2 linked regions of the Homo sapiens genome follow. Changing the gene in region 2 together with the main gene of any one other region gives a genetic interaction. Each region holds a gene or a part of one and is shown on either strand. Other genes may lie near its edges.

Region 1 (6,852 bases), on a different chromosome or scaffold from region 2:
TAGTTCTCTTAATTCCATCTGGTGGATCCCTTGCAACTTAAAAAAAAAAGGTTGGATAGACACTATTAAAAATCGGGTTGTTGTTTTTTTTTTTTTTTCCTGGTTGAGTTTATTTTACAGCCAGTTTTTCCAGAAAGGTATTTAACAGCTGATATAAACTTGACATGCAACTACTTCAACCCAGTCTTAGAAAATTAGTTAATAAATGCCAAGAACAGACAAGGTCTTCTGGAATAGACAGATGAGTAAGCCAGAGTCATGCTCTCAAGACACCTAAAAGCTAGTAGGGGCAGATAAAACACGCACACAACTTGCAAGAACCCAAGGCAGCAAGATGTGTGTGTAAACATGCCACAACATACACAATAAAGTTCCCAAAAAAGGAGAAAGAGAAAGCTAGGCTCAAGATCAAAGAACTGCACCAGCATACAATCCAATAAACCATTAAAATCCATTAGTGAATTAAATAAGTCAAAAGAGTAAGACACAATGAATGCTAATAAAACTTAGTAAGGCACAGAAGTCCAGATTCTAATTCTGGTTCTGCTGAAACTAGCTTCTAGCTCTGTGATATTAAACCACTATTCCTTACAAACCTCCTCTACCTGTTTAACGTGCTGTTGTGAGGATTAAATCGGCTCCCAGAATCTTCACTTCCCAGTAACTTTATCTCCCAGATTCCCTCCCATATCAGAATCTCCTCATAGGCAGTTAGTTATTCAACTTCTTCCTGAGTACTTCCAGTAAGGGGAACTTCATTATTTCTCAATAGCGATTACTACATCTGGGACAGCACTGATTCTTACAAATGTTCTTGCTTAGTGAAACCAAGATCAGTCTCTCAGAAAGTTCTATCCTACGGTCTTACACAGAAAAACAACAGAAAATTGGAAAAGCCTAAGAAAGTAACATGTAACGAAAACATGAAACACGAAAACAATGCACCGGTGTGAGAGCTCACCAGCACTTGGGAGGCCAAGGCCGGAGAAGCGCTTGAGCCCAGGAGTTTGAGACTAGACTCGGCAACATAGTGAGACCTCCTCTCTCAAAAAAAAAAAAAATAAACAAAAATTAGCCGGGCGTGTCAGCACACGCATGCAGTCCCAGCCACTCAGGAGGCTGAGGTGGGAGGATCAATTAGAGGTTGCAGTGAGCCAAGACGGGGCCACTGCACTCCAGCCTGGGCGACAGAGCGAGACCCTGTCTCAACAAAGAAAAAGGAAAAAGGAAAGGAAGGGAGAAAGGAAAGGAAAAAGGAAAGGAAAGGAGAAATGAAAGGAATGGAAAGGAAAAAGGAGAAAGGAGAGGAAAGGAAAAAGGAGAAAGGAGAGGAAAGGAAAGGAAAGGAAAGGGTCAGATAAATCACCCTTAACCAAGAAATTTTAGGGAAGTCTTCACAGAGAGTAGGTATCTGCTGGTTCTCCAAGGTGGGAAGAGTTGATCCGTGGCTTCAAACTCCAGGTCTTTTTTTTTTTTTCTTTGAAAAGGTCTTGTGTTAGGGAGGAACTGGCAAGAGAGCACAAAGCCTGTCCCAAAGGGCTCTTGAAGCACATTCTTTTTTGCAGATGAGCATATCCCTTTAGCATATGAGCAAGAAAGCGGTGGCTAAAAAGCCTGGAGGTGAGCTGGAGCCAGATCAGAAGAAACCTGAACATCACTCTCCTAAAAAGGCTGGACTGAAATTAGTGGAGGCAACTCACCGACGACTTCTGACAAGATGGCAGAATTCAATGTTCGGGAAGATTAGTTACGTGGAGATGGGCTGGATGTGGCCTGGGTGGGAGTGGGGGTTTGAGTGCCACACTGGCCGGGATTCAGGGAGCAGATACTGGAAATGACGACAAAGCCCACGACTGGGAGAAGGGAGAAATGTTAAAACGCTGCCAAGTGACTAAGGACTAATTCTATTAACAGATTAAAAAGTTGATTTCTAGTATCTATTCAGGGAAGGACAAAATACAGGATTCTGTTTTACTTATAAATGTAGTTTTGGCATCCCACATCGCTGCAGCACGCTGTACTGCCGGAGACTAATTCCTCTGCGTTCCTAAAGGCTACTTCCTGCTAGCCAAAGCACATTTTTAAAAAGTGAGAGTCATGGTTCATAATCCATATTTGGCAAAAAGCACAGGCAGTGCCAAGTTGAATTTGGGTAAGCAGTTTGGCATAAGCTATTTCAACAATGAAATGGCCGATGTGATGATCCTCAGGGAATACAAAAAGCCTCCTAGCAGCCTTCTGTTAAAAACTTTTTGGTAGGGATGAGTCTTTCTAGCTACTCTAAGACACATCTGATCAATAAAACGCCCATCCCGGAGCAGCATCTTGGCCCTCCGGAGATCAACGTTTATAGCGGGCTCCTCTTGGACTCTCCCTCTCCCTTTCCCTAAAGGAGCGGGCAAGACCAGGCCTCACCGGAAAACAGCGCAGCCGACCGCCCTCCACCCCGGGAGCAGGGGCCGGGCTCCCCTCCCCCAGCCGAGGCCGGCGGAGTGCGGCGCTTTCAAAGGCCTGGAGCCTGGTACTCGGCGCAGCCGGCCCTGCAGCCTCGCTCGCCCCATCCCGGCCCGCTCACCTCGACCCGGGCCGGCTCGGGGCCCTGCACAGCCACAGGCTGCGGCTGCAGCTGCTGGGCCGGCGCCGGCGGTTCTTTGTTCCGGTGGCTAAGGTCTTCATCTGGGCCGGCCCGGACCGCAGCCGGGGCCCACAGCAGCGGAACCAGAAAGAGCAGAAGCAGCCGGGGCGCCGATGCGCGGCCGTTCCCTGGAGCCGCGGCCGCCATCCCGCCTGCCGGGCCGGCCGCGCACGGGCGCCGCAAGAGGAAGTGCCGGCGACGGGAAGCCTCGACCCCGAACAGCCTCCGCGGCGCGTCCTCACGACTCGCCGCCGCCGCCGCTTAGGGAGCAGTCAGCACCATCCGGGAGGTGCAAGCAGCGGGAGTGAGGTGAGGGGCAGGCCGAAGTCCGCAGCCCCGGCTCGGCGCCCGTCCTCTCCGGCGGCGGCTAAACTGGAGTCAGCCAGCTGCCTCGGCGCGGCCCAGCCCCGACTCCTCCCGGCCCCGTCCCTGCCCGCGACGGCCTCCCATTGGCCCGGCGACCGCCTTGGCGTCGTGACGTCCTCTGCCAGGTTGAGGTGCGGCGCGGGCCCTCCTCCCATTGGATCCGGCGCTCCCGGCAGGTACCCGGCGCCGCGTGTCCTTCCTCTGCTCGCATCCTCACCGCGCCGCGCCCGGGGCTCCCTTTCTCTCTCTGTGCCCCACCGTCCCAGGACTGCGAGGTCCTTCACTTCTGCTTCCTCCAGAGCCTTCCGCCGTAATGTCCGCACCCGCTGTTCCCTGCGCTTAGTCTCTCTTAGAGGTCAAATTAGTGCGAGCGCCTCTGGTTACGTGGCGCTGACTCGCAGGCACTGCCACGCCCAGCTCTGTTCCGCTCTCCCCCGCCGAGCCTCTGTGCCACCCTCCATGTGGCCACCTACCGCCAAAAACGTTCTTAGGAGCTCAAAATGCTATTTTTTTTTTAAAGTTCTGAAATGGGATTTGGAAATAACATGACATTTTTCAAGCCTTGTTTTAAGATACTGCCTATAATTACCCCAGACCAAAAATGGCTAACGTTGCCCTTGTCCAGTATGGCCTTGACGTTTTGGGTGCATCTTGTTTTGTGCTATTCCTTAGACCCTTTAAAAATGCTGGGCTTTTGAAATGGACTGTTTAAGACTTTTGCAGGATGGAGCTTTGAGTGGGCAAGACTAGAAGACAGGAAAGGATGGTCTTGAGTTAGGCTTGAGAATATTTTTACGTCTTCCCAAAAGAAAAAGTGAGCTACTTAATTACCATAAGTTTGAGACCTAGTCCCTAATAAAAATCGATAGTGCTAACCATGTGCCAGGCACTAATCTAATATTATACATATTTACATACAGTAAACCTGTACTCAGTAAAGAGCTAAGGAAGTTTATCACTAACTGAAACAAAAAATTAATCCACCAAAACAATCTGTGGGAAAGTGGGCAAACCTACTTTGAGTTCACCAAAGATACAGTGTTTGTCACAGGATAATAAAATTTCCGTCTGTTTTTTTGTTTTGTTGTTTTCTTTGTTTTTGTTTTTGAGACGGAGTTTCGCGCTTGTTGCTCAGGATGGAGTGCAATGGTGAGATCTCGGCCCACTGCAACCTCCTCCTCCCGGGTACAAGAGATTCTCCTGCCTCAGCTTCCCGAGTAGCTGGGATTACAGGCATGCTCCACCATACGCGGCTAACTTTGTAATTTTAGTAGAGATGGGGTTTCTCCATGTTGGTCAGGCTGGTCTCGAACTCCAGACCTCAGGTGATCTGCCGGCCTCGTCCTCTCAAAGTGCTGGGATTACAGGTGTGAGCCACCGCGGCCGGCCTCCGTCCATGTTATTCTGTCCGTAATTCCCCTTCTTCCATTCTCTCCTTGTAAACTCCTACTCATACTTCCAAAACCTATTCAAGCTTCCACTCTCAGAACTTTTCCCCAACACATGGCGTTACAGAATTTGTCACTTGTTCCTTCATGTTATTGCTTTATGCATTCTTCTATTACTGTGTAAGTAGGATGCCTCCACTTACAGTTTGGGGTGTGTTAAAAGAAAAACCTTAGACAAATTAAACTTAACAGCGTTTAATCAAGCAAAGAACCCAAAGAATGATCTGCAAATCAAAAAGACCCCAAATCAAAGTAAGTTCAGAGAGGCTCCAGTCTTGCCGAGTGGTCGGAAAAAATAAAGTGACTTACAGAAAACATAATTGAGGGACAGAAACAGCTGGATTGGTTGTAGCTCAGGTTTGCCCTATTTGAACACGGTTTGAACAGTTGGCCACTTGTGATTGGCCAGAACTCTGTGATTGGTACAAGAATAGGTTACAGTCTGTTTACATACCCAATTAGGCTACAGTTCACCATGTATGGGGAAACCTTTAGGCCTAACTTAAAATATGTAAGGAGGCAGCTTTACACTAAATTTAACAGATGCAACTATCATCCCTGGAGTGCAAATGTTTGAGCTTTCAGAAGCCAGTAATAACATAAAACCCAGAAGCCCAAACTTCAACTACCTCCCCTTAATGCATACAGGATTTGCTGTGCTTAAAAGGGGCCTGAAAGGGAGGCTTGAGGTCCCAAGGGAGGGACCTGAAAGGAGCAGCTTAGGCTGAAGACAGAGCCAGAAGGGTGAATGTAGCAAAACTGGCTGTGTGTCCCTCATTGCTGAAAGCTGCTTTGTTTATTTTCTAGGATGGGCTGCCCACACTCCAGGGCTTTCTCACAGGAAGGACTCCTGGCCAAATTCAGTCATCTCAACATATGAGGCAGTGAGGACTTCTGGGCTACAGCTGCAGGATGCTGAAGCACCAGCTGCTGAGCATGCAGTGGTTCAGGGGCAAGGCAGCAAAGCTATTTGGCAGAAGATGTAACATAAATGGAGATAGAGCATTGGCGAACTGGCACAGTGGTGTCAGCAAAGCATCAGAATCTGGGCCAGAGTGAGACCTTTCTAGCCTGCCCCAGTGTCACCCTGATCCAAGGGCCTTCAGGTGCTGCCAGGCTAGGCTCTAGGTGTCTGATTCTCATGGGATCTGGTATTTCTGTTTCCACACACATCTACCTCCTGGGATCCGTGCTCAGGCGTGCTAAATCGAGGCTGGCTCCAGTTTTCACCACCTTGAGGGTTTAGAGCCATCATCCTTCTAGTCCTCATTGGTGACTAACTCCCTTAAAAAAAGCAATTAAAAAACTATAGGAGCTTTCCTGATACCTTTCTTGAAGGACAACTGAAGCTACTTATTTAACCCCCTACCCAATAAGGATGTGGGTGGCGCAACAATTCCAAGATGATATATTTTTTAATCATAGCCTACACCGATATAGTCTTACTAAAATGTAACCACTGTCAGGCATCCTATGGAAAGAAACCCTACTACATGTGCATTACATTGTATTTTATTTAATTAATTTATTTATTTATTTTTGAGGTGGAGTCTCGCTCTGTTGCCCAGGCTGGAATGCAGTGGCAAGATCTCGGCTCACTGCAGCCTCCGCCTCCCGGGTTCAAGCAATTCTCCTGCCTCAGCCTCCTGAGTAGCTGGGATTACAGGCATGTGCTACACGCCCCACTAATTTTTTGTATTTTTAGTAGAGACGGGTTTACCATGTTAGCCAGGATGGTCTTGATCTCCTGACCTCGTGATCCGTCCGCCTTGGCCTCCCAAAAGTGCTGGGATTATAGGCATGAGCCACTGTGCCTGACCTATATTTTATTTTTTATTTATTTATGTAGAGATGGAGTCTCGCTCTGTCACCCAGGCTGGAGTGCAGTGGTGCGATCTCAGCTCACTGCAACCTCTACCTCCCAGGTTCAAGCGATTCTCCTGCCGCAGCCTCCAAAGTAGCTGGGACTATAGGCGCCCGCCACCATGCCTGGCTAATTTTTGTATTTTTAGTAGAGACAGGGTTTCACCATGTTAGCAAGGCAGGTCTCGAACTCCTGACCTCAAGTAATCCATCCACCTCGGCCTCCCAAAGTGCTGGGATTGCAGGTGTGAGCCACTGAGCCGGGCCTGCACTGTATTTTAATGTCTTTTATTCCAACACCCTTACTAAGCCTTAAGCTTCTAGATGGTAAGGTTATGCCTTTTATCTTTATATTTCTAGCACCTAGTAGATTATATAAGAAGGTAATGGGAATAGTTATCATTAAAGTAGTAGTAAAACTTTATTGAATGCTATTCTGATCCAGTCAGAGCACTAAGTGTGTTACATGAATTATTTCTATCCTCCTTTTTGCAAATGAGAAATCTGAGACTTAGGTCAAGGAACTTTCCTCAAATTACA
Region 2 (7,025 bases):
TCCATCTCTGGCTTTTGGGGGTATTGGAGAAGTAGAGCTTAAGATCTTAACCACAGGGCCCTGGGATGAAATAGCAGAGTGTCAGTAGCTCCTCAGCACATATACACAAAACCAATACCATAAGCAGCTGCCAGGGAGAAGTTGGAGAGCTGGTGGAACTGCATCTGCATAGGCTCCACAGCAGCTGCTGCAGGCAATGCAGGCTGAGACTCAGAGACTTGTCTTCTGTGACATCCAGGGTTATTCTCACAGTTGTCCTTTTACAGTCACTGAGCACCAGACTCACCTTGTCAGGGGCATCCTCATGGACTGCATGGCCACACTGGGGTAGGACCTGCATCTGGAACTTCCCTGGAGAGGAATCAAAGCAAGGCAACTTCAGCGACTAAAAGAGCCCTCTCTTATGCAGCCTCATAGGTCATTCCAGGAGCCCAGGACCTACCTCCCCATTTCCAACCTCACCTCAATACTCTGGACCCAATTATCAAGTCTTGCTGAGGATGGTAATACAAGTAATTGTAACCTTGCGCCAATCATTTCCCTTCACTTTTTCCTTCTGTCCTATTTAGTGTACATTTACTGTGGGCCAGAGACACATAGAAGAAACAGTTCTTGTCCTCAGGGGATTTACAGTCCAGTAGGGGAGTAAAACACAAAAACCAACATTTTAATGCAGCATGTCATTCCTATGATAAAACTGGCTACATGGGGCTGTAAGAGCATAAGAAAGGGAACTTCACAATCCAAGAGGGAACCAGGAAGGAAGGAAGGCTTGAAATGGCTTGGAATACAAGAAGCTTGGCATGGTGCTTATGAGAGTGGTTAACAATAAGGCTGGAGAGGTAAGCAGGGGCCAAACCATTAAGGATTTTGTAAGCTATGTTAAGGATTCAAAATGTATTATTACAATAATAAGTTACCATCTGAGCACTTAAGCATGTGCCAGGCATTGTACTAAGCACTTTCTCATACTGTCTTACAGAACACTGTAAGCTCGTAACTAATGCGACAATGATTGAGAATGAACAGCGATGACTGATAAAGAAGATCCCTAAGGAGACTAAAGGATATGAGACCCAGAGCCCCCATAAGTAGAGACAGCAGATTTTCTCAGCCTCAGATTCTCTATTTATAAAATAAAGGAATGGGCTTGAAAGTTCTTCTGGTCATTACATCCTGTGGTTCTTACCCCAGTTACGCAGGATTCAAAAGTTTTCAGTGTATTCTTCTATCCATTTTTAAAGTTGATTCTCAAAATCTACCCTATACAATTAAGCACAAAAATACTGAAATTCTTTTCTGAGATGATGAAACTGAGGCCATGATTAGTGAAGTAACCTGCCCAAGGCCACTTCATTAATTAGTGGAGGAATAAGATGATCCCATTTAGTAAAGTCCATCCTGTGCCCCTCCTCCTGCAGTAAGCTGCCTCTCTCTGGGTGCTCAAGCCTAGTCACCTCTCCCTTCTAGCTCCTAAAGTTGTTAATGCACTTGGATCCAAACACAGAGCAGCACATGGCCCTCTTGTAAGTTTCAAGTAAGTTTACATTTTACATGCCACTGGTGCTTGCCTCCCCAGGAGTGTGTCATTTCCATAAGAACAGGGGACAATGGTGTTATTACTTGCTCTATATCCCTAATAAGACCTAACACAGGGTAGGGCACTGAGTAGATGCTTAAGTCTTTAGCGAATGAATGATGAACAAATGACTAGATCCAAAACTTACAACTCCAATCTCCCTGTTCTTTCTGTTAGATCAGCTCTGATGACTAGGGACGCATTTGTCCTTCCTCTTTGGAAGAGTAGGTATAATCAGAGAGAACTCACATACACCAACAACACTGTGCCAGGTACACATAAAATAACATGTTCATGGGTAATCCTCATGATTATTCTATGAGGTGGGAATATTTCCAAACTCTTCTCTCCCATTGCACAGATTAGGAGCCTTAGGTTCAGAGAGCCTAAATTATTTACCCAAGGGGTACTATGAATAGGTGGTAGTTTTCCAGGATTTCATAACTAAGTCAGTTGGTTTGAACACAGTGCTGGCAAAGCTGTGGTTTGGAATCTATGCAGCCTTAGCCATTTCCCTTTGTTCTGTGGAATGTTCCTTATCCTCGCCATTTACTCTCTATACTCATAGGAGGCTTTCTTTAAACCAGAAGGTGGTCTTGATATAATCCATATTGAGGAAACAGGAGGACATCTCATAAGGAATCGTGATTACTTCCTGAATATAATGAAAGGCATCATTTGTTAGACTACCCGCATTTTTTTCATTTAAACTTCATGTAACTGTACTGAGATATATCATTATCTCCATTTCACAGATGAAGAAACTCAAAATTAAATAAGTTAGGAATTCACTCATACCGCAAAACTATTAACAGTGATTCAAACCCAGGATTGTCTGATTCCAAGGCTGGTGATCAACAATGATTTCAAATGCTATCCCAGTCCATGTCAACTGCCTTCAGGCAGTCTCAGGGGCCATATCTGATTCTTCTGTCTGCCCAGCATCATGCATAGGTCTTGCACAGAAAGGGTGCCTAGGAAAGGTTTCTTGAATTGAACTTAAGTGTCTTAGATTCAATTTCATGGCACTCATGTTGGTAATTACGGGCTTAGACATTTATAAGCATCTACTTAAATAAGTGTCTAAGCCCATAATTACCAACATCAGTGCCATGGAAAAAAAATCACACAGTCCCAGCTCATAGTCCTATTCTAGGCCTCAGGATACAATGTAGTTAAAGGAAGGCAAAGCCATGAAGGTCTGGGACCAGAGTTTTATATGTGAGAGCCTTTGAACAACTATTATGAGAGAATATAGCTCCTTTTGCTGTGGAAAGCTTGAGGATAGCTAAAAGAACAGTTTGAGAGGCCCATGAGATATCCAGCAGGTTTGCTACATAGGCTAGGACTGGATCTCAGGAGAGAGGGGTGAGGTGGATGTTTAGCTTTGGGAGTCATCAATATATAAATGGAAGCCATGAAATTGTCCAGGGAGAGTAAGTAGGGAAGAAAGGTCTAGAACAGATTCTGCCTGAGCCTGAAACTTTGGTCTTGGAGTTGGCACCTCTTCTTCCCATAACCCAAAAGTTGTATGCCTACTGGCTTCACCTTCACTGAGTCTTTTACCCGTACTAAAGCAAGAGCCCCCACAAAATTGGACCCGCTGCCTCCACTGTTATCTAGCTAACATACATGCATCTGTATACAGTGCTCAGCATGTCACTTTCCTACTCATTATACCCCACGATCTGTTTGAGGCTGCCATCAGTTTTTTCATTTTCCAGATTAAGAAGACTAAAGCTGAGGCAAGTCAGATAACTTGCCCAGAGTCAAAAAATTACTGGAAAAGCAGTATTCAAAACTCAGTTTTCCGAACTTCAGAGACCTTACTTTTACCATCTTACCATGCTGTCTTCTAAACAGGTATTTATACCTTTTTATATCTGGATTATCTTGAGCCTTTCCCTTTCCTAAAACTTCTAACAATAAGAAAAATACTGGCCAGCTGCAGTGGCTCACACCTATAATCTTCGCACTCTGGGAGGCCAAGGCAGGTGGATCACTTGAGGTCAGGAGCTTGAGACCAGCCTGGCCAAAATGGTGAAACTCCATCTCTACTAAAAATACAAAAATTAGCTGGGCGTGGTGGTGCATGCCTGTAATCCCACTACTGGGGTGGGTGAGGCCCGGAACTGCTTCAACCTGGGAGGTAGAGGTTGCAGTGAGCCGAGATTGGTCCCACCGCACTCCAGCCTGGGCAACAGAGTGAGACTCCAATTCAAAAAAAAAAAAAAAAAAAAAACCCACAAACAAAAAACTGATCAGTAGTCAGAATATCTCTTTTCACAGTATCATACACCTATACAGTACTTTATAATTTTTAAACACATTGCCTCATTTTAACTCTTATAACTGAGACATAGGTAGTAGTATTATAATCTTCATTTTTGGATGGATTTTTTTTTAAACAAATTAAAGCTCAGGAAAGGGAAATACTTGCCCATAATCATATAGTGTGTTAGGAGTAGAGGCGGATGTCCAACTTGGGTCGGACTCTAAAGCTCATGCTTTCTCCGTTATACCTCACTATCTCAGGATGTTAACTGCCCTATCACCCTTTCTTCAGAAAAGGGTCCAGGGGTATAATTTCTTGATAACTTACCTTGCATCTGGCCAATGGTCAGATCTTTATCCAATCTATCAACACCTAGAAAACAAGAGAATTCATTGTGAAACAGATTTTGCTGTTCACGTATTAAGTAAAAAGTGTTACAAAGTTTTAAATATGATGACATTCTCCATTCATGTTTATACCAATCCTAACTCCCAGAGCATACTCTCACCACCAGATAAAACTTTTCAGGTTGAGATTCCCCTATAATTACTATGTTAAACTGGTTCTGAAAACAAGGTTTTACTATTTTAATTCTCATAATAATCAGAATATCCTTATACCACTGCATCTAGCTCTAGACTAAGAAGGACTTGAGCTTGACCAAGTAGACAGGCCAGGCCAGAATTAGGTCATCCTTTATGCTTAGATGAATGCTTATGCTTAGTTAGGTTTAGAGACTGGGTGTGGGGAGGAGAAAAGGCATAGATGAATGAGGAAGGTACTCTACTTTGGATGTCACTACTCATTTGGTGAGAAGTTTTAATGAGGTCATATTGAGATGACAATATACCAACACTGCTATGGACTGAGTTGTGTCCCCCTAAAACTCATGTTGAAGCCCCAATTCCCAATGTGACTGTATTTGGAACTAGGGCCTATAAGGACGTAACCTCAGGTCATGAGGGCAGAGCTCTGACATGATAGGATGAACGTCCCTAATTAATATCCTTAAGAGAAGAGACACCAGAGAGCTCACATTCACTCTTTCTCGGCCATGTGAGGGCACAGAGAGAAGGCAAGCCAGGAAGACAGCCCTCACCACAACCTGACCATGCTGGCACCCTGATCTCAGACTTCCAGCCTCCAGAACTGTGAGAAAATAAATTTCTGTTGTTTAAGCCACTCAGTCTATGATATTTGGTTATGGCAGCCTGAGCTGACTAATATATGCACATATACACTTACCAGCCAAGAGCAGCAATTTAGGAATGGGACAACTAAGAAAGAGATTGGATAAGCCTCGGAACCAGCCGTCCCAGTATTTTTCTGTTTTTGCCAGTTCAATTCTCCAGGTGTATGGATGGTCTTTCTTGGTCTGGAGGAATAAGAGCAAGTTCTGAGTCTCCGAGGGCAACCCCTGGAGGAACAGGATTAAAAACTAGATCCCTGGGAAAAGGAAAGGGAAGGAAACTAGCACTTATTAAGGACCTACTAAGTCCTAGACATTTTAATATACATTCAATCCTTCCAACAGTCTTGTTGTATGGGTCACTGTTAATATTCATTTTAAGATAATTACAAGTTTACTTTTTATTGCTATTAGTTTCTGTGAATTTAGGAAACTTTCTTAAGATCACAAAGCTAGTAAGTGGTAGTGCCAAGATTAAGCCTTTCTTATACTTGGTTGGCAAAAGGATGTTTCATCAAAAGAATAACTACAAAGAACATACTGCAGTATGAAAAAATGCTTATAATATAAGCAAGAAACAGATTACAACATGTCATCTAAGTTAGGATTACTACTGGAAAAATGTGGTATAGTAAAGTACTAAAAAGGAAAACTGAAAATAGGTTGATTTGTCAGTAGAGCATTTTTTCTTATATTTTATGATAATGATATAATGTTCCTGCAATAGTAATTTTGAAAGGAAATATGAGACAAATATGACAAAATGTCAACATTTATTAAATCTTTATTGTAGATAAGCACAGAGTATGCAATCAAATATTGGCTGAAAAAATAAATAATTCTCTATATTTTTCTGTACCATTGAAATATTTGAAACATTATAATTGAAATAAATATACTGAATCAACCACAATATGAAAATCTAAAAGTGAACATGAGATAGTAACATATTATCTTAAAGATCACTGGATGCTTAAGATGTCCATACTACCCAAAGTAATCCACAGATTCAATATAATCTCTATCAAAATTCCCATGGCTTTTTTTTTTAGGAAATAAAAAAAATCACCTTAAAATTCATATGGAATCTCATAGACACTGACTAGCCAAAACAATTTTGAAGAAGAACAAAATTGGAGAACTCACACTCCCCAATTACAAAGCTGCAGTAATTGAAACAGCTTAGTACTGCCGTAAAGACAAATAGACCAGTGGAATAGAATAGAGAGCCCAAAAATAAACCTTCACATAAATAGTCAAATGATTTTTGACAAGACTGCCAAGACCACTCAATGGGGAAAGAACAGTCTCTTCAACAAACAGTACTGGGATAACCAAACAGATATGCATATTCCAAAGTGAAGCTGGGGCCTTATCCCATATCCAAAAATTAACTCAAATGGATTAAAGACCTAGTAAGACTAAGACTATAAAACTCCTAGAAGAAAACATGGAGGAAAAGCTGGACAGTAGACTTGGTAATGATTTCTTGGATATGACACCAAAAAGCAGTGAACAAAAGCAAAAATAGACAAATGGTACTATGTGTATGGAATGGGAGAAAATCTTTGCAAATCATATATCTTATAATGGATTAATATTCAGAATATATAAAGGACTCCTACAATTCAGCAACTAAAAACATCGAGTAACCTGATTAAAAAATGGTCAAAGGGCTTGAATAGACATTTCTCTAGAGGTGATACAGAAGTGGCCAATAAGCATATGAAACGATGCTTAACATCACTAATCAATAAATAAATGCACAGCAACACCACAATGAGATACCACCTCACCCCCATTAGGATGACTACTATCAAAAAAGAGAAAAATAAGTGTTGGTGAGGATGTGGAGAATTCGGAAGGAACCCTTGTGTACTGAGTTGTAAAATAGTTCAACCAATAAGAAAAACATCAAGGCAGTTCCTCAAAATATTAAAAACAGAACTACTGTATGATCCAGGAATCCCACTTCTGGGTAC

What was found.
Region 1: changes in PPME1 (region 2) and TMEM165 are lethal when combined (synthetic lethality), as found in Homo sapiens cells (one study listed by BioGRID).

The regions. Positions count from the first base shown.
Region 1 is NC_000004.12:55,392,120-55,398,971, reverse strand, and holds the start of TMEM165 (putative divalent cation/proton antiporter TMEM165 precursor), read right to left. Parts: upstream 3,016-6,852; 5' UTR 2,783-3,015; coding exon 2,576-2,782; intron 1,854-2,575; exon of another isoform or gene 1,701-1,853; intron 1-1,700. UniProt on the Homo sapiens protein: Putative divalent cation:proton antiporter that exchanges calcium or manganese ions for protons across the Golgi membrane.
Region 2 is NC_000011.10:74,244,280-74,251,304, reverse strand, and holds part of PPME1 (protein phosphatase methylesterase 1), read right to left. Parts: exon of another isoform or gene 5,810-7,025; intron 5,272-5,809; coding exon of another isoform or gene 5,230-5,271; coding exon 5,100-5,229; intron 4,227-5,099; coding exon 4,182-4,226; intron 1,160-4,181; exon of another isoform or gene 983-1,159; intron 352-982; coding exon 287-351; coding exon of another isoform or gene 47-286; exon of another isoform or gene 1-46. UniProt on the Homo sapiens protein: Demethylates proteins that have been reversibly carboxymethylated. Demethylates PPP2CB (in vitro) and PPP2CA. Binding to PPP2CA displaces the manganese ion and inactivates the enzyme.